3 separate regions of the Homo sapiens genome follow, and regions 1 and 3 are each linked to region 2. The links come from fine-mapping of genetic effects on gene expression. A gene starts in region 2. Each other region holds a variant in brackets. All regions are shown on one strand. Distances are from middle to middle.

Region 1 (8,149 bases), 100 kb before region 2:
CGGGGCCACACAGAGAAACAACCACGCAGACAGTCACACCACGGGGACACACGGACAGACGCAGACGGACACAGCGACATGCCCCAGACACGTTAAGGGACTGGTTGGCCAAACTCAGACACGTGGACAGGGATAGACAGAAAGAGACAGAAGCTGGGGCTACGTCCATGTGGACACAGACCACAGATGTGGGCACACGAATCCATCCACCTGTCCACGTGCACACGTGAATGTAGCGATAGATATTTGGACATCAAATTTGGACACCAGGTCACGGAGAAACACAAACACCACCCAGGAACACGCAGACATATGCCCATAGCATCCCACAGGCCCAGGCAGGAGGTCCCACCCCAGACCCTGCCCCAGACGCTCCCTCACCCTCTCGGCCCCCTCGCCCTGGCCCCCAGGTTCTCTGCAGAGATCTCTCCTGGACCCCCAGCGGTCTCCTTGGCGCCCACGAACACAGGCGTGCACACGCAGCGCACATGCATTGAGACACACGATACCTCGTTCCACCTTGGCGTCACGGTGGGCTGGAGGCAGCCCCCCCCCCCACAACACTTGAGGCCAAAGGACACCCCTGTCCCCGGGGCTCAGCCTCCCCCTGGGCCGAGGCCTTGGCCCACACAGCTGAGGGAGAGGCCCAGCCCTGAGCCTCCCCCACCAGGACTGGGCCTCCCCGGCAGCAAGACCCCGGCACTCCCCGCCAGGCCCAGGGTGGGGTGGATGGGCCCAAAGGCCCAGCCCCACACTCCTTTCCCGTCCACTTGTCACCTACCTATCCCCTTTCGGTTTGTTGGGTTTTTCGTCTTTCCAGATTGCAGTGGACACAGCCCCCGATCTCGAGCCCCGGCCCCCGGCTTCTGTCTGGACATTGCATCGCCCTAGTTTTCTTTCTTTAAAAAAAAAAAATTCCAACAGAAGCCACAGGCCGGAGCCCCTGGGAGCCCTCGCACCGCTCCCCACCCCACTCAGCGGCCCCATCGGAACTGAGAATTGCAAAACCCCCGACTTTAGCTATAGTTAAGTTGCCTTCCCCCGGTGTCCCCACGTTTGGTGTCTGGCTATGGCGCCCCCATCTGACTGTCCAGCTCTCTCTCCCCCACCCCTCCCGGTGTTGTTATTAAACGTCTGTGGAGCTTCTGCTGCAAGGAACAAAAAAGAAAAAAATCAAAAAAGCGACAAAAAAACACAAACAGAAGAGGAAAAAAAAGCAACAAAAAAAGAAAACACACAGAAGAGATTTAAAAAAAAAAAAGGAAAAAAAAAAAAGACATAAACTGGCACCAGTTAACTTTCTTGTACTTTTTTGCTGAATTTAGCTTCTTGTAGTTTTAACTTATTGCTATGTTAACTATTTATTCTCCTCGTTGCCCTGTAAGGACATCCGTGTATATTTCTGTTACTTCATCCGGTTTGCAAGTTAAAGGAACGACAATGTTCTCTTTGTTTCTTTAAGTTTTGCCGAGACATGGTTATGCCTAATTTATTTATAAAAGGGGAAGTGGAATCATTAAAGTAATAATAATTATTAATAACAGTAATGGTAGCCGAGTGGCACGCGGGGGCGTGTGCTCTGCGGGACAGTCCCCACGGCCAGCGACGTCCAGGTCACCAATGGGATTCTTTTTGCTCTTGTCTTGAGAATTTTTTCAGTCCTATTTAGCTGGTGAAATCCCTAGCTTGTTCTTGATACACGAACCTATTTATTCTCGTGGTTTTAAGTCCTCCCTGCCCTCTCTCCTCTCCCCTGCAGCAGGGCAGGGACCCCTCTCCCCTGCTGTCTCTTGGGGCTCTCTCCCCTCCGCCCTCTGCATTCGGGAACACGCACGTCCGCGTGGGAAGCTTGCAGCAGGGCGTCCGAGCAATAAGGGCTGGGTTTGTCCCCCACCCTGGGGGGGGCCAGGCTCCAGAGAGGGGGCACCTCCCCACACACCCCCCCCCCACCGAGGCCTAGGCCCCTGCCACCCCCAAGACTGGGAGGGGACTTCTTTTTCTAAAACACAAAACTCAGCCCAGCCAGGCCCCCTCCCTGGAGGCCAGCCCCTCCCCGCAGGGGGCCAGGCCGGGGCTCCCAGGCGAGGGGGACTTGGGGCTTCCACGTCCCTGGGGGGCAGGGGCCAGGCCAGGGGGGAGGGGGCTCAGCCCCTCCACCCCTCCCTTCATCCTGTTATTTATTCGGAAGGTTTCAAATCACGACAGAGTCCATGTTGGAGGTGATAAAAAACTGTAAAAAAAAAAAAAAAAAAAAAGACAAAACAAAAGACAAAAAAAAAAAAAAAACCCAACAAGAACACTTCGCGTTGCGTTTAGACTATTTATTACCGGGATCACAGGCCTGGCCGCGGTAACAGACTTTTACATGGAATTGTTTAATTATTTGTACTTTTCATGCCAGAAAATAAAAGTTCAGAATCTTAAGGCCTTGGGTGATCTCTGCACCGCTGCGCGGGGAGCACGCAGGAGCAGCCTGTGTAGTAGCGCCCAGGCCCCCGTCCTTCTCTGGGCCTGGGTCTGTCTGCAGCAGGGGCTTTGGCCCCGGGAGGGAACCCTTGGCCTCCACAGAGCACAGATGAGACCCAGGGAAGGTGGGACACGGGCCCGGATGGATGCTCAAGACAGAAATGGTCCAGGGTCCATCCACCTGGTATCTTCAGGAGTGATCCCCAGATGGTGGGGGAGGCCCGGGTGGGATCTGCAGAAAGCTGCGTCCCCTGCGCTCAACCCCTGCCCACACCCCGGTCCACACCCCAGCAAAGCGAGGCAGACACAGACAAGTTTGGGTGGGGGATCACATTTATTGTATTGAGGTCACAGGTCAAGTCATTCACTAGTCCCCACTAGGAGGGGTGGCAGGGACAGGGCTGGGGGTGGTGGGGCGAGTCACCAAGGTGGGGGGCCCAGGGAGGGCAAGCTCCTTTACCCATCTTTGAAGGCTGTTGGGGCCTGGGAATGTGGACCAGCCCCGCCTGGGCCCCAGAGCAGGGCACGAAGCCCCACAAAGGTCCTGCCGCCACAGAGGAGGGCAACAGAGCCACAGGCAGGCCCAGAGGGGCGGGTGGACGGCACTGCAGGGGCTGGCTTCATGCCTTCTTGAGGTTCTGGGGCAAGAGAAAGACCAGATTAGAAAGCTGGGGACAGCTGGACATGGTGATGTTTGCCTGTAGTCCCGGCTGCTTGGGAGGCTGAGGTGGGAGGATCATTTGAGGCCAGGAGTTGACCAGCCTGGAGACCTTGTCTATTTTCTCTTATTATTATTATTTTTTTTTTTTGAGAGTCTCACTCTGTAGCCCAGGCTGGAGAGTGCAGTAGCATGATCTTGGCTCACTCCAACCTCTACCTCCTGGGTTCAAGTGATTCTTGTGCTTCAGCCTCTTGAGCAGCTGGAACTACAGGCACCTACCACCACACCCAGCTAATTTTTTTGTATTTTTAGTAGAGATGGGGTTTTACACCATGTTGGTCAGGCTGGTCTCAACCTCCTGACCTCAAGTGATCCGCCCACCTCAGCCTCCCAAAGTGCTGGGATTACAGATGTGAGCCACGACGCCTGGCCTATTTAGTTTCAAAAGTAAAAAAAT[C/T]TTTTTTTAAAAAGCAGGGGATGGCCAGACATGGTAGCTCAAGCCTGTAATCCCAGCACTTTGGGAGGCTGAGGAGGGCGGATCACGAGGTCAGGAGATCGAGACCAACCTGGTTAACACAGGGAAACCCCATCTCTACTAAAAATACAAAAAAATTAGCCAGGCGTGGTGGCGGCGCCTGTAGTCCCAATTACTCAGGAGGCTGAGGCAGGAGAATTGCTTGCACCCAGGAGGTGGAGGTTGCAGTGAGCCGAGATCGCGCCATTGCATTCCACATTCCAGCCTCGGCAACAAGAGTGAAACTCCATCCAAAAAAAAAAAGGCAGGAGATGGCCGGGTGTGGTGGCTCATGCCTGTAATCCCAGCACTTTGGGAGGCCAAGGCAGGTGGATCATCTGAGGTCAGGAGTTCGAGACCATCCAGGCCAACATGGTGAAACCCCATCTCTACTAAAAATTAGCCAGGCATGGTGGTGCACACCTGTAATCCCAGCTACTTGGGAGGCTGAGACAAGACAATTGTTTGAACCCGGGAGGTAGAGGTTGCAGTCAGCTGAGGTCGCATCACTGCACTCCAGCCTGGGCCAAAGAGTGAGACTCCACCTCAAAAAAACAAAACAAAAAAGCAGGGAACATGGGGACACAGGTTGATAGAGTGGCCATGTGGGTCCATCTTCCTCAGGGCCCGCCGCCTCCCCTTGCTGGGGCAGGCCGACGAGACTCCACCTCCCCGCCCACCTCTGCGCCCATCCAGCTAGAGCTCGTCATGGTCGTCTTCGGTGGGTGCTTCAGGCGGTGGCTCCGGGCAGGCGGCTGGCGTCATCAGCTCCATGAGGTACTCGCAGCGACTGGGCTCTGTGGTGCTGGTCACCATGGTCTCTTTCCCGCACAGGAGGCGCACCTGGGGATGGGCAGACGGGTGCTCGAGAGGGTTCGGCTGGGCCAGGCCTGGGTCTCCCCGCCCCAGCTCCCCTGCCTTGCAGGCACTCACGGTGGTGGAGCGGTTGGGGCCCTGCCAGCAGCCCGTGCCTTGCTCATACTTCATGGCACTGAACTTGTCGTGGTCGGGGCCAATCCATGAGCCCCAGGTGCTGTGAGAGACACAGGGTGCTGAGGGCTGGGCCGGTGTCGGGGCACCAGGAGGAGGCAGAGGGAAGGGGCCAGCCCAAGCCACTCACCCAAGGCTGGTGGGAGAGCCCCCGAGTTTGGGTTTCTGCGAGACAAGCTTGAAGGGGCAGAGGCGGTAGACGTATCTGTGGAGGACCGGGACATATGGGTTGGGGAACGCAGGGATTCCAGCCTCCTCCCACAGCCACCCCCCACCGCCTCCTCCAGTCCCCACACACAGGGTACCTCCAACTCCAATGACCAACCCTAAACCTGGCCCCTGGCTTCTGCTCCCCCTCAATATGGAAGGCAGCACTCTCGGGCCCCACCCGCAGATGGTTCCCCAACCATCAGGAAACTGCCGGTGCCACTTCCGGGGCCACCCGCCTCCCACCCTGCCAGTGGGGGCCCCTGCATTCCTGGGACGCACTCGTTGGTGGTGAGCTCGTAGCACTGGCTGTACAGGTAAGCAAACTCCCCGTTGGGGCCAAAGTCAAAAGAAATCTCTTGCTCCAGGTTCCTGGAAGGGGAGGCGGAGCGGTTAAGGGGCAGCTGGGGACGCCAGTGCCTGACCCAGGACGACAGACACAGGAGGGTCTGGCTGAGCAATGGTGCCCAGGCTGTCCTCCCTGCCACCTCCCAGGGACCCTCCCTGCAGGGACCAGGCCCAGCCTGTGGTTGCCTCAGTGATTCCCCATCACCAGCTCCCCTGGGAGTCAAGGAGCAGTCGCTGTGGGACAGGTGTCCCCGCTCCTCAGCCCCCGCTACCTGATGGACTCCTCCATGTCCTTCAGCGACCGCTCGGCCTCCTCGAACTTGTTGCGGGCCTCCTGGGCAGCTGGGAGAGGGGTTGGAGGTCAGAGATGTCCTCAACCCCATCCAGGAGGATGGGGAACGGGGTTCCATGGATGTGGCTGTGTGCTCCCATACCCTCATTTTGCTCTGGCCAAGGACTTCACCCCGACAGCCTTGAGGGCCTCACCAGCTATAGAGCAGCCCCGACTTGCTGCCCAGGCTCCCAGCTCCTGAGCGAGTGGGGCCAGGAGTGACACAAACAAGCTGCGGCCCTTGGGGAGGCAGAAGGGCCCCTTGGGGCTGGCGAGGGTGGGACTGGCTTACCCTAGGCCCCCTTCCTGGACTCCCCAAGATACTGGGGCTTGTGCTGGCCGAGTCAGAGCAGGGTCTAAGCTCAGGATCTTCCCTCGACCTGTGCCACCACGGCAGGAAACGCTGGGCCCACCCGAGGAGCCTGGCCCCCGCCCACCCTCACCATCGATGAAGGCCTGCGTCTGCTCGTCGTAGGGCGGCATTTTGTCTTCCTCAGCAGGGCTGGCCGGCTGCGGGGGTGACAGTGGCGGTGGGGCCTCCTGGGGCAGGGGCAGGGTCAGTGAGTAGCCCTTCCCCCACCCTCTCTGTCTCCACTTCTCCCCCAAACACGGACCTTGGGCTGCTCCCCCTGCACCTCGGAATCCTCCTCCTCCTCCTCTTCTTCAGCCTCTTCTTCCTCCTCCTCCTCCTCCTCCTCCTCCTCCTCTGTGGGCGACGAGGGCACTGGCGGCTGCTCCTCCTTGGGCTCCGTCAAGTCAGGGGCAGAAGGTGCTGGAAGGTCGGTGGGCAGTGCCTGGCGGGTGAGCAGTGCGGTCGGTGTTGTGGACTCAGGGTCCACCCACACCCTCAGGCTCACACCACAGCCCAAGGGGCAGCCTCGGTGTCTCTGCCCCTCCTGCGGGGCCTGCAGGGAGGACCGACAGCTGGGGTCGGGGGGTCTCGGTGGGGGGTGCTGGGGCCACCCAGCTGGCCAGGGTGGCCAGGTGCCAGAACCAGAGGCAGCTCCTTTGTGAGGCGGGGTGGGGGCAGTGTGGTGGGAGGACCAAGTCCCCTCCCTTCTCCTCCACTGACCTCGGACCGGTACTTGTCCCTGATGGCGGCCCAGACGCGGTCGTAGAAAGAGGTGGCGTCTGTCTGTGTGTCCCCACTGAGGAGGGCCTGTGTGTGTTGGGGGTGGTGTCAAGATCTAGGCCACCACGTGTCCCCCATCTCGGCCACCCCGGCACCCGGGCTGCGGTGCCAGGCACGGGAGGGCTGGGCCCCGGGCCCTGATGACCAGGCCAGGGCCACGCCAGTGAGGCACTGCGGCCAGGAGGGGGCAGCACAGGCCCGTGGGAGGGGAGGAGGAGACCAGGGGCTGGAGTGGTTGGGGGCACTGAGACAGAAAGAGAGAAGCAGATGGACAAACGGACGTACAGATGGAGGAAGAGAGAGCCCAGGACCAGAGAGGGCCAGGCCCTCCAAGGGAGAGGCCAAGGCCCAGGCTGCAGATGGAGAGGGAGAAACCCAGGGGTGGGCAGAGAAGGGAGGCCAGAAGCCAGGGGCCACGGGGAAGGAGGAGGATAGGAAAGGAGACAGACAGGGGACGAGGGTGTGGGGGAGGAGGGGAATAGGGCAGGACAGGGGTGGGGGAGGAAGGGGATTGGGTGCTCAACAGCGGGTAGAGTGGGGGCAGGTGCGGGGAAACGGGCTCCAGCGCGACCTGGCTCCATCCCGGGTCCTGCCAGGCGGGAAGCGGCCCTGAGTGGCTGCCATCCCAGCTCACCCAGAGGAGGCATCCCAGGCCAGCAAGGAGCTTTCCTTGGTCCCCCTCCTGTGCCCTGAGGTCACCCTGGGGCAATGCTCCCTAGAAGTCCCCAACCAAGGGGCAGCCGGGGGTACCTGAGCTTCCGCTTCTGACAACGCCCCATCCCCATCTGTGTCCAGCTCCGGGTGAGTCTGCAGCTCAGTCACCGAGACCCTGCGGGGGCGTGGCAGAAGCAGACTGGAGGGGTGAGGCCCCAGTGGCTCTCAGTTGGGGGCACCATGTGGCCCACCTGTTCTTCCCTGCAGGGCCCCACCCTGGAACTTGCTTCAGGACCTCAAGGTGTAGGGGCCTCCCCACCCTCCTGCCCCCTCCTCAGGACTCCATGACCCCAAAGGAGCTCAAAGTAAGGGGTGGGACTGGGAGATACCTGGACCCCCAAATGTCCGATGACCTCTCTACCAACTCACCCAGGTGGCACCTCCTTCCACCCCAGGACCCGGCACATTGAAGCTGCCATCTGCCTTGGTCCCCCACCCAGCAAAGCCCACCCCCACCCTTGCCCATTCGGTCCCTCTGAAGCCCCCTGCTCCTTGGCACCTGACATCTCCTAGGCTCCCCGTGTGCCTCTCAGCCCCCAAAAGTCCACCCTCCACCAGGTAACCCAGCAAGCTCAGAGGCACAGCCAGGATTCGAACCCAGGTCTGGCTTTCCCCAGAGCGTAGTGGGGCTGGGAAAAGCCATCCGATCACTAGATGCCTAGACACACTCCCTGAGGCTGAGGGTCTGTGCCCAGCTCCTGGGGAGAGGGTGGTCCCCCTATCTCCTCGCCCAGGGCATCCTGGACCTGGCCATCCACGAGTAAGAGGCGGGGTCACACGGGGCTT
Region 2 (8,173 bases):
TGGCCCAGCTGATCCCAACAGGACCAGCTTCCAGCCTGACTTTTTTTCTTTTGAGATGAAGTCTTGCTTTGTTGCCCAGGCTGGAGTGCAGTGGCGTGATCTCGGCTCACTGCAACCTCTGCCTCCCAGAAAGCAATTCTCCTTTCTCAGCCTCCTGAGTGGCTGGGACTACAGGTGCATACCACCACGCCTGGCTAATTTTTGTATTGTTAGTAGAGATGGGGTTTCACCATATTGGCCAGGCTGGTCTCGAACTCCTGACCTCAGGTGATCCACCTGCCTCAGCCTCCCAAAGTGCTGGGATTACAGCCATGAGTGACAGCACCTGGCTTTTTTTTTTTTTTTTTTTAAGTAGATATGGGGTTTCACCATGTTGTCCAGGCTGGTCTCAAACTCCTGACCTCAAGTGATCCAACCTCTTTGGCCTCCCCAAATGCTGGGATTACAGGCGTGAGCCACCACGCCTGGCCTAGCCTGACCTTGATCTCTGGTCAGTCCTCACCTTCAAGCTGCTGAATCTTGATTTGCTGCAAGCAGCTCTCCTTCTCCAACATGGTCACTGAGTGGTTCAGGAACTCGAAAGCCTGGGGGAAAGAGGTCAGCCTTGGGGTGGGAGGAAGGAGGGGAGGGCAAGGAGAAACAGAGGTTGCTGGGGGCAGGGCCAAGGTGGTTCACCTTGGTCTGGGCCTGTAACTGGCTCTTGAGTGACTCAAGTTCACATCGCAGGAGCTTCTGGGAGTCGGGAATCATCACAATGGTCTTGGCTGTGGGCAGAGAAGAGGGTGAGCCAGGGCTGTAAGGGGTGGGGTCTGGGGCAAGGGCAGGGCAGAGGTCAGCAAAGGCTCAGAGTAGCAGTAGGGACAGGGGATAAGATATAGAACAGGGGCCCACTCAGCCTTGGGCAGGAGTGAATGGGTGACCATGGCAGGGGGACAGCTGATGCTGGGGCAGAGGGTAGAGGTAGAAACCAGCAGGTCTTCCCCACACAGTTTTGTTGGAAAGGAGATTTCTCACCTTTGACTTTGGAAGAGCTGGTCTCCAAGGGCTTCTAAGGAAGAGAGATGAGATGGGAGTAGAAATTTGTCCCTGAGCTGCCTCCTTGCTCACCTCAACCCAGTTTTGAGGGCTGGACAAGAGTTGGATCTCCTCAGTTCTAGGTGTCCCAAACCGTAAGTGCAGGCAAAGCTGCACTCCAGGCATATTCATGCACCTCCCCCTTGGGCTACATATGCTCAGAAGTGCACTTATGTGGCTGAGAGACGATCACAGCCAAATCCCCATGGAAGACACACAACCACACTCTTTCCTTCCATTCATTCCTTCATCCATTCATTTAAGACTTGCTTAGCCAGGGCCTGCTGAGTGCCAGGTGCTGTTCTAGGTGCTGAAGAAACACAGTGGGTGCATTCATGGGAGTCTCTCTGCCTTACAGCCCCTTCCCTAAGCCCCACAGCAGTAGATTGCAGTGGTTTTCTGCATTGAAGGGGTTTCCCGGGTGGGGGTGACCTTAGCTACGTTGTGATGCCTCTTCAAAATGTCCTGGTCATTACAGCACTGCTTCTGCAGGTCTGGACTGGGGGAGGGGGCAGCCTCATGTGGCGAAGGCCCTGAGCCCCACCCTGGCCTGCAGTCTGCAGTCCTCACTGTGTCCCCAGAAGCAGGGCATCCCAAGGTCTCTGGCTCTGGAGTCCTGGACCAGTGAGCTGTACGCTCCAGAGCCTTGTCCGAGGAAGAGCCTAGGGGTGAGGGCTTCCTTGAGGGACAGTGCAGGGCACTCCTCACATTCCCAGCCCCTCCCAGTGTCCCCAGCCCTATGGGAGCCCCCTAACTAACCCCAGTACTTGTCACACTTCATGTTAGCAGGCAAACACATGCTGGAGGGTGAGGGAGGTGAGTAGAGGCAGGACACAGAGTAGTCAGGGTCCCGGGGTAGGCCGGCCAAAAGAGGGTCGCTGTGAGTAGGGAAGCAGGGGCTGCTTTGAGATAAGTCCCCATGTCCCCAGTGCCCCCAGACCCTCCCTGACATGCCAGAGAGGCCTCAGCCCTAAACTCAAGGCTTCTCAGTTATGGTAGGAGCCAAAGCTGGATAAAAGATGATCCCAAGGCCAGACGCGGCCAGCAATGGTGGCTCACGCCTGTAATCCTAGCACTTTGGGAGGCCAAGGCGGGAGGATCACTTGAGGTCAGGAGTTCGAGACCAGCGTGGCCAATATGGTGAAACCCCGTCTCTACTAAAAATACAAAAACTAGCTGGGCATGGTGGTGGGCGCCTGTAATCCCAGCTACTCGGGAGGCTGAGGCAGGAGAATCACTTGAACCCGGGAGGCGGAGGTGGCAGTGAGCCGAGATTGCACCACTGCACTCCAGCCTCAGCAACAGAGTGAGACTCAGTCTCCAAAAATAAAAAACAACAACAAAAAAGATTATCCCAGCCCCAAGGTTTGGGCTGGGCAGTGAGAAGGACCCAGAAGGCCCCAAAGAAAAAAAATCAGGCCTCAGAAGAGTCCAAAGAAAAAAGGGACCTTGACATTGGCTTAAAGGAAGGCCTTTCCTGGCAGGGAGCAGCATGTGCAAAAGCTTGGAGGTGTGGAATCACATGCTCTATGCTGGTAAATTCATGATGGCTGAATCGAGGTCCGAGAGGAAGCAGCAGGAGGTTAGCAGAGCAGCTCCAGTAAGGCATTGACGGCCAAGCCAGGAGTTTCGACCTGGCCCCACAGGTGAATGCCAGCCATAGAGTGTGAGCAGGAGAGGCAGGGCATATCTGTTCAATAAATGTTAGCTGAATTGGGGCCCAGACCCGTGCTAGAAGAGGCTGGAAACAGGAAACAGCTGAGCTCTGGGTCTCACATTCAACTCCCCTCCCCCTCCAGTATAGCCACATATGGCACAGATGGAGATATCTGGGGCAGGTCTGCCTGGAGAAACTTCTAGGTGAAAGGCACCTTGCCCTGAGTCACACTCAGCCTCTTCCCCCAAATCCTCTAGACCTTTCTCTCTGTCACCCTTGCCAGGCCCTCTGCCTGATTCAGTCGACCTGGAAGACTCCTACACGCTCTTCAGAACTACTCAGGCTGGGCACGGTGGCTAACACCTGTAATCCTAGCACTTTGGGAGGCCAAGGCAGGTGGATCACCTGAGGTCAGGAGTTCGAGACCAGCCTGGCCAACATGGAGAAACCCCATCTCTACTAAAAATACAAAATTAGCCAGGCGTGGTGGCGCATGCCTGTAATCTCAGCTACTTGGAAGGGTGAGGCAGGAGAGTCGCTTGAACCTCAGAGGCGGAGGTTGCAGTGAGCCGATATCATGCCACTGTGCTCCAGCCCGGGCAACGAGAGCGAAACTCCGTCTCAAACACAAACAGACAAACAAAAACTATTCAGCATATCTTCAGTAAAATCTTCCTTAATCCTTTTTTAGGCTCCTATTTTCTGAGCACCTAATTGAGTGCCGGGCATCCCCTAAGCATTCACTGGATCTTCACACCCACCCTGTGATGTACACGTTTTTCTTCTGCCTGAAATGTCCTAAGCTGCCCCTCCGAGAGTCACTGCCTCAGGGAGGTCCTCACTTCCAGGGACAGCAGAGTATGACGGTTAAGCAGGGAAACTCTCCAGCTAGATGGCCTGGGTTCAAATCCTAGCTCTGTCCCTTCCAGCTGTGTAATACTGGTCGCGTTACTGAACCTCTCCATGCCTCAGTGTCCCCAACTATAAAAACGAGATGTCATAATAGTCACCTTACTGGGATGTTGTGATTAGATAAATTAATCCATGCCAGTGCCTGGTATAGAGTAATGGGGAGCTGTGTTTGCTCTGGAATGTCACGCTGAGAACCCGGGACTTAGGGACCATAGGAAGCCTGGGAGGCTTGGAGGGGAAAAGGAGAGGCATTTGAGAACCAGCTTAGGTCCCCAGTAGTGCCTCCTCTCTCCCCGTCCCATCCCGGTTGCTGCTTCCGTGTCCCTCCCGGGAGAATTATTTAGGGAGGGGGCGGGGTCATCATCCTGGCTCCGCCCCCTGGGTTGTGAAATCTACACCCGCCAGGCTCCAGAACCCCACCTACCACATACCACCTGTTCATGCTCTCCCATCAGGGACCACGAAGCCAGTCCTCAGCTGTGACGCTGAAGTTTGATCCCGCGGGGACACCATCGTATTAAAACGCTCAGAGACTGAGTCACAGAGAGGGGTGTGGCCGGCATTTTAGTTCCGCCCCTGCCGGAGTAGCCGAAGGCCTCATTGGCGCCTTCACGCTTCAGCTGCGCTTAGTAGCCGCGGCGTAATTGGATAAAAGCCCGTGGAGGGGGCGGGATCCCAGGGGGGTTTCTACGATTAGTCAATACCCAGGAGGGCGGGATAGAAAGGTGCAGATCTACGACCCGATTGGCTTCGGGCTCAGCTGGGAGGCGGGACGAATTATTGGTTGGGGGAAACCCACGAGGGGACGCGGCCGAGGAGGGTCGCTGTCCACCCGGGGGCGTGGGAGTGAGGTACCAGATTCAGCCCATTTGGCCCCGACGCCTCTGTTCTCGGAATCCGGGTGCTGCGGATTGAGGTCCCGGTTCCTAACGGTGGGATCGGTGTCCTCGGGATGAGATTTGGCGTTTCCTCGGGGCTTTGGTGGGATCGGTGTCCTCAGGATGAGATTTAGGGTTTCCTCGGGGCTTTCGGGATCTTCACCTAATATCCGGTATTATTTTATGAGAGGAGTGGTCTTGGCTGTCAGAACTGGATCCCTGGGGTGATATTTGGGAATTAGTGGAGTGATCTCTGAAGACCTAGGGCTATGATCTGGAGCTGCTGTGGCTGAAATTTGGGGCCTCTGAAGTGGCATGGAGATTGAGGTCCAGAGAGCCTGAGATCTTGAGGGCTGACATTTGGAGAGATGGGGTCGAGGGTTGTCTTTGGGCCTTGACTGCTTTGGGCCTTTCTCACTCTCATTCCCGGGATGCTTTGCCAGAATCTCTGCTGGATTGGCCGTAACCCTGTCCCCGAGCGGGCTCACAGGGTCTGAAGGCCACGCATGAGGCAAAGGTAAAGTTCTGAGCCACCCGGTGCCTCCTTCCCAGGACTGCAAGATGGAGGAAGGCGGGAACCTAGGAGGCCTGATTAAGATGGTCCATCTACTGGTCTTGTCAGGTGCCTGGGGCATGCAAATGTGGGTGACCTTCGTCTCAGGTAGGGACCCTCAGCTTGGATGTCATGGGTACCTGGGGTGGGGATGGAAATAAGAGGGGAACCGGGAAGTGCCCTAACACCCCTGTGGTCCCCATACCCTGCAGGCTTCCTGCTTTTCCGAAGCCTTCCCCGACATACCTTCGGACTAGTGCAGAGCAAACTCTTCCCCTTCTACTTCCACATCTCCATGGGCTGTGCCTTCATCAACCTCTGCATCTTGGCTTCACAGCATGCTTGGGCTCAGCTCACATTCTGGGAGGCCAGCCAGGTACGTGGGTTTGAGTGCCACTGCCCTCTGGAGACTTGTTCCCAGGACCTCAGTCAGCGCCTATGGCTACACCTTTTCCAGGGGGGGAAAAAAAAAGGCTAGGCATGGTGGCTCACGCCTGTAATCCCAACACTTTGGGAGGCCGAGGTGGGCGGATCACGAGGTCAGGAGTTCAAGACCAGCCTGACCAACATGGTGAAACCCCGTCTCTACTAAAAATACAAAAAAATTAGCCAGGCGTGGTGGTGTGCACCTGTAATTCCAGCTACTCAGGAGGCTGAGGCAGGAGAATTGCTTGAACCGAGGAGGCAGAGGTTGCAGTGAGCCGAGATCATGCCATTGCACTCCAGCCAGGGCGACAAAGCAAGACTCCATCTCAAAAAAAAAAAAAAAAAGGAAAGGAAAGGAGAGGAGAGGAAAGGAGAGGGGAGGGAAGAGGAAGGGAGGGGAGGGGAGCCCCTTCTTCCTGGTAGATACAAAGCTGGGCTCTGGATACCCTTGAGCAGTGCACAGCCTGTACAACAGTCCCCAGCAGCCCTGTCTATCCCCCAGCATCTCCCTGCTAGCTGCTGTTCCCTCTCCTCCCGCTGGCTGGGCCTGCTGCCAAGCTGTGGTGACTCAGCTGAGCTGGCACATTGACCCCAGCTTATTGTTTAAAAACCAGCCCGACTGGGAATTTATGGTTTCCTATCCCCTTCCACACATTTTTCTGGCCACAAGGCAAGAAACTATCTCTGCATCTCAGATTTCTCTATTTACTCTGGCCTTCCCTTGCCTGCATTATGTTTCATAGACGTGGGTAAGTGAGACCTGACAGGTGTTTCAAGAATAATCTCACAGACAGGAGGGGATTATGGGTAACTAGAACTTCACAGACTGTTTTTTTTTCCTTTTATTTATTTATTTTAATGAAACAGGCTCAGAAGGTATTCAAATACTTAAAACAGATAGAGATGGTGTTATAGCAATGTGAGAATGGCAAAAACATTTTTCCTAATTAAAAAAAATAGGCTGGGCGCAGTGGCTCATGCCTGTAATCCCAGCACTTTGGGAGGCTGAGGTGGGTGGATCACGAGGTCAGGAGCGCGAGACCATCCTGGCTAACATGGTGAAACCCCGTCTCTACTAAAAATACAAAAATTAGCTGGGTGTGGTGGTGTGCGCCTGTAATCCCAGCTATTTGGGAGGCTGAGGCAGGAGAATTGCTTGAACCCAGGAGGCGGAGATTGCAGTGGGCCAAGGTCACGCCATTGCACTCCAGCCTGGGCAACAAGAGTGAAACTCAGTCTCAAAAAAAAAAAAAAAAAAAAAGATGAGGGTCTTTGCTGTGTTGTTCAGGCTGGTCTTGAACTCCTGGCTTCAAGTGATGCTCCCACCCCCATCTCTGAAAGCACCGGGATTACAGATTACAGGCATGAGCCACCATGCCTGCCTTCAAAGACTTTTTGTTTTGTTTTGTTTGTTTTTGAGACAGGGTCTTGCTCTGTCGCCCAGGCTGCAGTGCAGTGGTGCAATCTTGGCTCACTGCAACCTCTCCTTCCCGGGTTCAAGCAATCCTCATGCCTCAGCCTCCTGAGTAGCTGGGATTACAGGGGGACAGCCCCCACACCTGGCTAATTTTTGTATTTTTAGTAGAGACGGGGTTTTGCCCATGTTGCCCAGGCTGTCCTTGAACTCCTGGCCTCAAGTGATCCACTCACCTCAGCCTCCCAAAGTGCTGGGACTATAGGCATGAGCCACTGCGCCCAGCCACTCAAAGACTTTTTATTCACCCTCTGTGGGTCCAATGTCAGCTTCAGGCGTCTGGGCTGTGGCCACTGAGGAAAGAGATCCTGCTCTGGGGACTTCCAGTCTGAGTATCAGAGGAGAAGAGGCTCGGGAGGTTTTGCGGGGGGATAGAGGAGGTGGGGATGGAGCCTTTCCTTCAGAGCTGCCAGTTTCAGAGTAGAAGAGCTGGAGTTCTGCTTTGGGTCCCTCAGTCTGGGTTCAAGGAAAGAGGGGGAGGCAGGTTTTTTGATCCAGTGCTGTCCCCACCCCCACCCCTGTGCTGTTGAGGATGCAGAAAGACCCTCCCTAGGGCCCCTCTGGCCTCCCAGGCATGGCTCACCTTCTCCTCTGCTCTCCCTGCCAGCTTTACCTGCTGTTCCTGAGCCTTACGCTGGCCACTGTCAACGCCCGCTGGCTGGAACCCCGCACCACAGCTGCCATGTGGGCCCTGCAAACCGTGGAGAAGGAGCGAGGCCTGGGTGGGGAGGTACCAGGCAGCCACCAGGGTCCCGATCCCTACCGCCAGCTGCGAGAGAAGGACCCCAAGTACAGTGCTCTCCGCCAGAATTTCTTCCGCTACCATGGGCTGTCCTCTCTTTGCAATCTGGGCTGCGTCCTGAGCAATGGGCTCTGTCTCGCTGGCCTTGCCCTGGAAATAAGGAGCCTCTAGCATGGGCCCTGCATGCTAATAAATGCTTCTTCAGAAATGGCTGCTGTCTTTTTTTTTTCCCCCATGAGAAGCAGGGGGAGGGGCAGGCAAGGGTAGAGCCAAGAGCCTCAGTTTCCCCATTCATGAAGCATGATGGTTTGGAGTGTCAGCCATTTTATCCTGTAAGCCTCTCCTATAATGATGCCCATTTATTGAGCACCTGCTGTATACCAGACATGTTGTTAACCACTGACATATCATGTATTATTTGTTTTGTTTTGTTTTGTTTTGTTCTGTTTTGAGACGG
Region 3 (8,173 bases), 290 kb before region 2:
CAGGCAGTTCTGAAACCCAGGACCAGGATAAGATGGAGGGTGAGTTGAGGACACATCGCCCTGTAAAGTTTCCAAAGATAAACCTCAACCCAAAGACATTCTCAGAAGGTGTCCGTGCCTCGGGCAGATAAAAGGAGGAGAGGCATAAAGATTGTTTACAGCAAGTGTCAGGTGCTTTTTCTCCGCTTCCTCAAGTGTGAAATGTTCACAAACACACAACAAATCTTTACAAAAAGAGCCATATTTTGCCCTCTTAAAAAAAAAAAAGCCTATTAAAATATTGCGTGTGGCCAGGCGCCATGGCTCACACCTATAATCCCAGCACTTTGGGAGGCCTAGACGGGCGGATCACCTGAGGTCAGGAGTTCAAGACCAGCCTGGCCAACATGGTGAAACCCCGTTTCTACTAAAATACAAAAATTAGCCGGGCATGGTGGCACGCGCCTGCAGTCCCGGCTACTCGGGAGGCTGAGGCAGGAGACCCGCGAGGTAGAGGTTGCAGTGAGCCAAGATCGTGCCACTGCACTCCAGCCTGGGCAACAGAGTGAGGCTCCGTCTCCACCAAAAAAAAAAAAATTATATATATATATTTAATATATATATAATTCATATATACATGAAAAACGTGTGAGGACGGTTGCAGTGGCTCATGCCTGTAATCCCAGCACTTTGGGTGGCTGAGGAGGGTGGATCACCTGAGGTCAGGAGTTTGAGACCAGCCTGGCCAACACGGTGAAAACCCGTCTCTACTAAAAATACATGAATTAGCCGCGCGTGGTGGCGGGCGCCTGTAATCCCAGCTACTCGGGAGTCTGAGACAGGAGAATCGCTTGAACCCAGGAAGCGGAGGTTTCAGTGAGCCGAGATTGCGCCACTGCACTCCAGCCTGGGCGACACAGCGAGACTCTGTCACAAAAAAAAAAAAAAAAAAAAAAAAAAAAAAAAAATATATATATATATATATATATATATATACACACACATATATACATATATACACATATATATATATATACACATATATATATATACACACACACACACATATATATGGCTATGTTTGAAACAAAGCCTGGGGGACGAAGAGTTGACATTGTTGTGGTGAACTGAAGAGGAGGCCAGCTCTAAAACGCGGAGCGGGATCTGGAAATCCAGGGATTTGCTGGCAGCCCTAGGAGAAGCTAGGCCAGGGATCACAGTTGCGGATTTGAGACCCTGCTTCGCATATATCTGGATATCTCAGTAAAAACTCGAGCCCCTTGGAGACAAAGGAGGAACTGGGGACCCCACAGACCGCTGCTCCTTCCACATGAACCCCACACCCGAGGAGGATTCCCCCCATGACCCTCCCGTGTCCCCGCACAATCTAGGGAGACGCGGGGCTGCGGACGCGGAGCTGCCCAGAGAGGACTCCGGAACCTGGGCCGCAGTTGCCGCGCGGGGACCGGACAGGACGCCCGGAGTCCTGGCTGCAGGCCCAGCCCCACCCTGAGGCCGAGAGGACCGAGGACCGAGCTGGGCCAGGGCACTCGGGTCCTCAGACCCCAGAGACAACAGCGAGGAGGTCTGGGTCCCGCCACAGCCGGTTCCGGTCGGTTACAACCAGCTGTACCCTGTCTCGGGAACCCCGGCCTCGGACACTCACCATTTCCCGGCTTCCGAGGTATTCCGGTTCCTACCTACACCTCCGGCTGCCAGTACAGGTTCCAGCCCGACCGAGCAGGGAGCCGAGCGCGGGTGACAGAGAAGACGCCGCGGGCTTTTTCAACCTCGCATCCTCCAGCCTCCTGGACGCCTGATTGACAGTTCTCACGGCCCCGCCCAGCGGCTCTGATTGGATAGTACTCCAGGTCCCGCCCCCTAGGCACTGAGCGACAGAAGAAGTGATCTCCCAGTGCTGAGTGGAGCCAGATGAACAGGTTGCAGACACAGCTCTTGGCATGGGGCGGGCGGGGGAGGGGGGGTTCCTCCCTGGGCAGTGACCTGACCCCTCCCGGGGAATATCTGCATTTAAGAAGAATTCCTGCCAATAGTCTGCGAGCCCTTCCTGCTTCTTCCTCCGGGACTGGGGGGTCACAACTGTGTGCAGGGAATCCCAGACTCACTGTCCAGTGGAGACATCCCCTGGCCTCGGAGCAGAAGGGGAGCCGAGGCCACACAGGCCACACTGCAGTAGGAGAGGGGGTCTGATGTCCTCCAGGGATCAGGAATTTGGGATGAAGCTGCTGGCTGCATGACCAAGCCTTTCTCCCACCTGATCTCTCAGTCTTATTTTTTTATTTTTTATTTTATTTTTTGACGGAGTCTCGCTCTGTCGCCAGGCTGAAGTGCAGTGGCGCGATCTCGGCTCCCTGCAACCTCCGCCTTCTGGGTTCAAGCGATTCTCGTGCCTCAGCCTCCTGAGTAGCTGGGATTACAGGCACGCGCCACCACCCCCAGCTAATTTTTGTATTTTTAGTAGAGGCGGGGTTTCACCATGTTGGCCAGGATGGTCTCAATCTCCTGACTCGTGATCCGCCCCCCTCGGCCTCCCAAAGTGCTGGGATTACAGGCGTGAGCTACCGCGCCCTGGAGTCTACTCGTTTTCACCAAGAAAATAAAAACACAGCAACAATGGAATAAAATTGTTAAATGTGTGGAAAAACTGGAATTATATGGCAGCAATATTCTATGAAGGAATCAAAAGAGAAGAAAAGCAAAAACATGAACTAGCTCAGAGAAGCAGTTTTTCAGCCACTGTTCAGCAGGAAACCCCCTATTCAGGAGGTTAAACAGATTCTTGGGAGCCAGGTTCTGACTGCTGAAACAGAGCCCCAGAACCGATCAGAACCTGGTGATGAGGCCTGAACACTGAAGGATTTAACTCTAGGCTCTCAACATGCCTTCCTGTCCTGTCTGCATAGTGTGGCAACACTCTCTCCTTCCAGACCTTCATCATATTCTCTCTTTTTTTTTTTTTTTTTTTTTTTTTGAGACAGAGTCTCGCTCTGTCGCCCAGGCTGGGGTGCGATAGCGCGATCTCCGCTCACTGCAACCTCCGCCTTCCGAGTTCAAGGGATTCTCCCGCCTCAGCCTCCAGAGTAGCTGGGATTACAGACACCCGCCATCATGCCTGGCTAATGTTGGTATTTTTGTAGAGACAAGGACACCGCGCCCAGCCCCAGACCTTCATTTTCACCAGCAGGAAACTCACCTGGAGTCAGTTTAAGGTACTGACTGACATAAATTGTCAAATTCATAAACCTTTTCTCCATAAGGTAATCCAATGGGTCTTGACCTTAACAGATTTTCTACATATATCAAATCACACTCCGACTCCAGCTATTCTATGTGTAAACCAAAAATAAAATTCAAAGCCCACCCCTCTCTCCCAAACTGAAGGATTCCCCTCTCGGCTAAGGGCATCCCAAAGTAAACCTGAAAATCTAGAAATCTAGTTCAGGCCACGATGGAAAGCAGGGGTCAGACCGGTAGTCCCATCTTAGCACCTATGGTCCCAGTGATCCTCAAGTGGGAGGATCACTTGAGCCAGGGAAGTCAAGGCTGCAGTGAGCTGTGATTGTGCCACTGCACTCCAGCCTGGGC[G/A]ACAGAGTGAGACTCCGTCTCAAAAAAAAAAAAAAAAATTATAATAAGTGTGGATGAGGACATGGAGAAACGGGAATCCTTGTGCACTGATGTAGAGAATGTAAAACATTGCAGCCACTGTGTAAAACAGTATGGCTGTTCCTTAAAAAGGTGAATTTAGAATTCCCCTGTGACTATTCAACTCCTAGGTATATATCCTAAAAAATCAAAAGCACAACACACAGAGACACATGTACACCAATTTCATAGCAGCCTTATTCAGAATATTACTGTGGAAAAAACCCACATGTTTATCAACAAACAAATGGATGAGCAAAGGGTGATTTATCCCTACAATAGAATATTTTCAGGCACAAAAAAGCAATGAATTACTGACACGTTAACACATGCATGCAACTTGAAAACATTATGCTAAGTGAAATAAGCCAGAGACACCAGAATAAATATTGTATACTTTCACTTATATGAGGTGCCTAGAATAGTCAAATTCATAAAGGGATAAAGTAGAATAGAGATTATCAGGGCCTGTGAATAGAGGAGAATGTGGAGTTACGTGCATGAGTATGAAAATTTAAGTTAAAAACATTGGCGGGGCCAGGTGCGGTGACACATGCCTGTAATCCCAGCACTTTGGGCGGTTGAGGTGGGTGGATACCTGAAGTCAGGAGTTTGAGACCAGTCTGGCCAACATGGTGAAACTCCATCTCTACTAAAAATACAAAACAAAAATTAGCCAGGCATGGTGGTGGCCACCTGTTATTCCAGCTACTTGGGAGGCTGAGGCAGGAGAATTGCTTGAACCCAGGAGGCAGAGGTTGCAGTGAGCCAAGTTCACGCCTCTGCACTCCAGCCTAGGTGACAGAGCAAGACTCCATCCCCCCCCAAAAAAAATTAAGTTAAATAATAGCCAGGCGTAGTGGCATGTGCCTATAGTCCCAGCTACTAGGGTGGTTGAGGCAGGAGAATCACTTGAGCCCAGAATCAGTTGGGGTTGCAGTGATGAGTGATTGAGCCACTGCATTCCAGCCTGGGTGACAGAGTGAGATTCTGTCTCAAAAATAAAAATACAAAAAATTAAAAATAAAAGGCAGTTTTCTTTTCTTTTTTTTGAGACAGAGTCTCACTCTGTTGCCCAGGCTGGAGTGCAGTGGCACGATATCAGCTCACTGCAACCTCCACCTCCTGGGTTCAAGCGATTCTCCTGCCTCAGCCTCCCCAGTAGCTGGGATTACAGGTGCATGCTACCATGCTGGGCTAATTTTTTGTATCTTTAGTAGAGATGGGATTTCACCATGTTGGCCAGGCTGGTCTCAAACTCCTAACCTCAGGTGATCCGCCTGCCTCAGCCTCCCAAAGTGCTGGGATTGCAGGTGTGAGCCACCACGCCTGGCCCTGGCAGCTTTCATATCTCAAATATTGAGTTAATTTTATACATATCCAGAATATCAGTCACACCTAATACTTACCTAATATTGATTGATAGAATGACATTAAAATGTCATTAATTGTGTAAATTTTAAAAAATTTCTTCTCAACACAAGATCTCACCATGTTGCCCACGCTGAACTTGAAGTCTTGGCCTCCAGCAGTCTTCCCACCTCAGTCTCCAGAAATGCTAGGAATGGCCGGGCACGGTGGCTCACGCCTGTAATCCCAGCACTTTGGGAGGCTGAGGCGTGTGGATCACGAGGTCAAGAGATCGAGGCCATCTTGACCAACATGGTGAAACCCTATCTCTACTAAAAATACAAAAATTAGCTGGGTGTGGTGGCGCGAGCCTGTAATCCCAGCTACTCAGGAGGCTGAGGCAGGAGAATCACTTGAACCTGGGAGGCGGATGTTGCTGTGAGCCAAGATCACGCCACTGCACTCCAGCCTGGCGAGAGTGAGACTCCATCTTTTTTTTTTTTTTTTTTTGAGACAGTGTCTCCCACTGTCGCCCAGGCTGGAGTGCAATGTCACAATCTCGGCTCACTGCAACTTCTGCATCCCGGGTTCACACGATTCTCCTGCCTCAGCCTCCTGAGTAGCTGGGATTACAGGTGCACACCACCACACCCGGCTAATTTTTTGTATTTTTAGTAGAGACAGGGTTTCACTATGTTGGTCAGGCCGGCCTTGAACTTCTGACCTCATGATCCGCCCGCCTCGGCCTCCCAAAGTGCTGGGATTACAGGCTTGAGCCACCACGCCCGGCCGAGACTCCGTCTTAAAAAAATAAAAATGCTGGGATTACAGGCATGAGCCATAATGCATGACCAAGACACTCATTTTATACCCCAAGACAAAAAATACTCGAAATGGAATGGAAGATGATATACTTTAAATGTACATCCCCGCAAAATCTCACATTGAATTGCAATCCCCAAGGTTGGAAGCAGGGCCTGGTGGGAGGTGTTTGGATCATGGGGACAGATCTCTAATGAATGGCTTGGGCCATCCCCTTAGTGATAGGTGAGCTCTTCTTCTGAGTTCGCACAAGGTCTGGTGGTTTGAAAGTGTGTGGCACCTCCCCTCTACCTCTCTCTCTCGTTCCTATTTTGCCACGTGAGAGGCCTGCTCCGGCTTCACCCTCCACCAAAAGTAAAAACTCTGAGGCCTCCCCAGAACCTGAGCAGATGCCAGCACCATGCTTCCTATAAAGCTTGCAGAAACATGAGTTGATAAAACATTTCTTTATCAATTATCCAGCCTCAGGTATTTTTATGGCAAAGCAAGAAAAGCCTAATACAGAGGTAAAAAGGTATTCCACGCAAATAGTAACCAAAAGAGAACAAGAGTGGATATGCCATTATCATACTTGACTAGACTTTAAGGCAAAACCTATTTAAAAACACAAAGAACGCTATCTTTTGTGTGTGGGGGGGTACATAGTAGGTGTATATATTTATTGGGTACAAGAGATATTTTAATACAGGCATACAATGTGTAATAACCATGTATTAGTCCGTTTTCACACTGCTGATAAAGACATACCTGAGGCTGGGAAGAAAAAGATGTTGGTCGGGCACGGTGGCTCACGTCTGTAATCCCAACGCTTTGGGAGGCTGAGGTGGGCAGATCATGAGGTCAGGAGTTCGAGACCAGCCTGGCCAAGATGGTGAAACCCCGTCTCTACTAAAAATACAAAAATTAGCCAGGCATGGTGGTGCAAGCCTATAGTCCCAGCTACTCAGGAGGCTGAGGCAGAAGAATTGCTTGAACCCGGGAGGCGGAGGTTGCAGTGAGCTGACATCATGCCACTGCACTCCAGCCTGGGTGACAGAGCAAGACTGCATCTCAAAAAAAAAAAAAAAGAAAGAAAAGAAAAGAAAAGAAAAAAAGAAAAAGATATTTAATTGGACTTACAGTTTCACATGGCTGGGGAGGCCTCAGAATCATGGCGGGAGGCAAAAGACACTTCTTACATGGCAGCGGCAAGAGAAAATGAGGAAAAAGGAAAAGCAGAAATCCCTGATAAACCCATCTCACTACTATGAGAACAGCAGGGGAAAGACCATCCCCCATGATTCAATTACTACCTCTGGATTCCTCCCACAACATGTGGGAATTCTGGGAGATATAATTCAAGCTGAGATCTGGGTGTGGACACAGCCAAACCATATCATTCTACCCCTGACCCCTCCAAATCTCATGTCCTCACATTTCAAAATCAATCATGCTTTCCCAACAGTACCCCAAAGTCTTAACACATTTCAGCATTAATCCCAAAGTCCACAGTCCAAAGTCTCATCTGAGACAAGGCAAGTCCCTCCCGCCTATGAGCCTGTAAAATCAAAGGCAAGCTAGTTGCTTCCTAGATACAATGGGGGTACAGGTATTGGGTAAATACAGCCATTCCAAAGGGGAGAAATTGGCCAAAACAAAGGAGTTACAGGGCCCATGCAAGTCTGAAATCCAGCAGGGCACTCAAATTTTAAAGCTCCAAAATGATCTCCTTTGACTCCAGGTCTCACATCCAGGTCACACTGATGCAAGAGGTGGGTTCCCATGGTCTTGGGCAGCTCTGCCCCTGTGGCTTTGCAGGTACAGCCTCCCTCCCAGCTGCTTTCACGGGCTGGTGTTGAGTGTCTGCAGCTTTTCCAGGTGCACAGTGCAAGCTGTCAGTGGATCGACCATTCTGGGGTCTGGAGGATGGTAGCCCTCTTCTCACAGCTCCACTAGGCAGTGCCCCCAGTAAAGACTCTGTAGGGGGGGCTCTGACCCCACATTTCCCTTCTGCACTGCCCTAGCAGAGGTTCTCCATGAGCACCCCACCTCTGCAGTAAACTTTTGCCTGGACATCCAAGTGTTTCCATACATCTTCTGAAATCTAGGTGGAGGTTCCCAAACCTCAGTTCATGACTTCTTTGTACCTGCAGGCTCAACACCATGCGGAAGCTGCCAAGGCTTGGGGCTTCAACCCTTTGAAGCCACAGCCCAAGCTGTACGTTCGCCCCTTTCAGTCACGGCTGGAGTGGCTGGGACACAGGGCACCAAGTCCCTACATTGCACACAGCACGGGGACCCTGGGCCTGGCCCGTGAAACCACTTTTTCCTCCTGGGCCTCCGGGCCTGTGATGGGAAGGGCTGTGTAAACGTGTCTGAT

What was found.
Region 1: its variant is fine-mapped to the expression of CCDC159 in whole blood (INTERVAL, PIP 0.97).
Region 3: its variant is fine-mapped to the expression of CCDC159 in visceral fat (GTEx, PIP above 0.99).

The regions. Positions count from the first base shown.
Region 1 is chr19:11,445,601-11,453,749 of GRCh38, reverse strand. PRKCSH (PRKCSH beta subunit of glucosidase II) reads right to left here. Exons shown (of 18, transcript NM_001289104.2): 9 at 7,400-7,478; 10 at 6,590-6,676; 11 at 6,132-6,311; 12 at 5,961-6,057; 13 at 5,459-5,528; 14 at 5,121-5,210; 15 at 4,762-4,836; 16 at 4,575-4,674; 17 at 4,322-4,484; 18 at 2,782-3,104. The coding sequence ends at 4,338. ELAVL3 (ELAV like RNA binding protein 3) reads left to right here. Exons shown (of 7, transcript NM_001420.4): 7 at 1-2,424. Among named protein-coding and RNA genes, the nearest start is that of PRKCSH, 14 kb to the right of the region's middle. RefSeq lists enhancers at 744-1,514, 1,439-1,558, 1,589-1,638. The variant C/T (reference allele first, on the strand shown) is at 3,585.
Region 2 is chr19:11,342,529-11,350,701 of GRCh38, reverse strand. It overlaps CCDC159 (coiled-coil domain containing 159), which reads right to left and starts at 4,183. Exons shown (of 11, transcript NM_001080503.3): 1 at 4,075-4,183; 2 at 1,015-1,048; 3 at 676-764; 4 at 503-584. The coding sequence starts at 4,095. It overlaps TMEM205 (transmembrane protein 205), which reads left to right and starts at 4,434. Exons shown (of 3, transcript NM_198536.3): 1 at 4,434-5,182; 2 at 5,287-5,450; 3 at 7,582-7,924. The coding sequence starts at 5,083. The coding sequence ends at 7,887. RefSeq lists enhancers at 1-232, 4,083-4,913.
Region 3 is chr19:11,633,369-11,641,541 of GRCh38, reverse strand. No RefSeq gene overlaps it. Among named protein-coding and RNA genes, the nearest start is that of ZNF627, 40 kb to the right of the region's middle. RefSeq lists a silencer at 1,781-1,870. The variant G/A (reference allele first, on the strand shown) is at 3,586.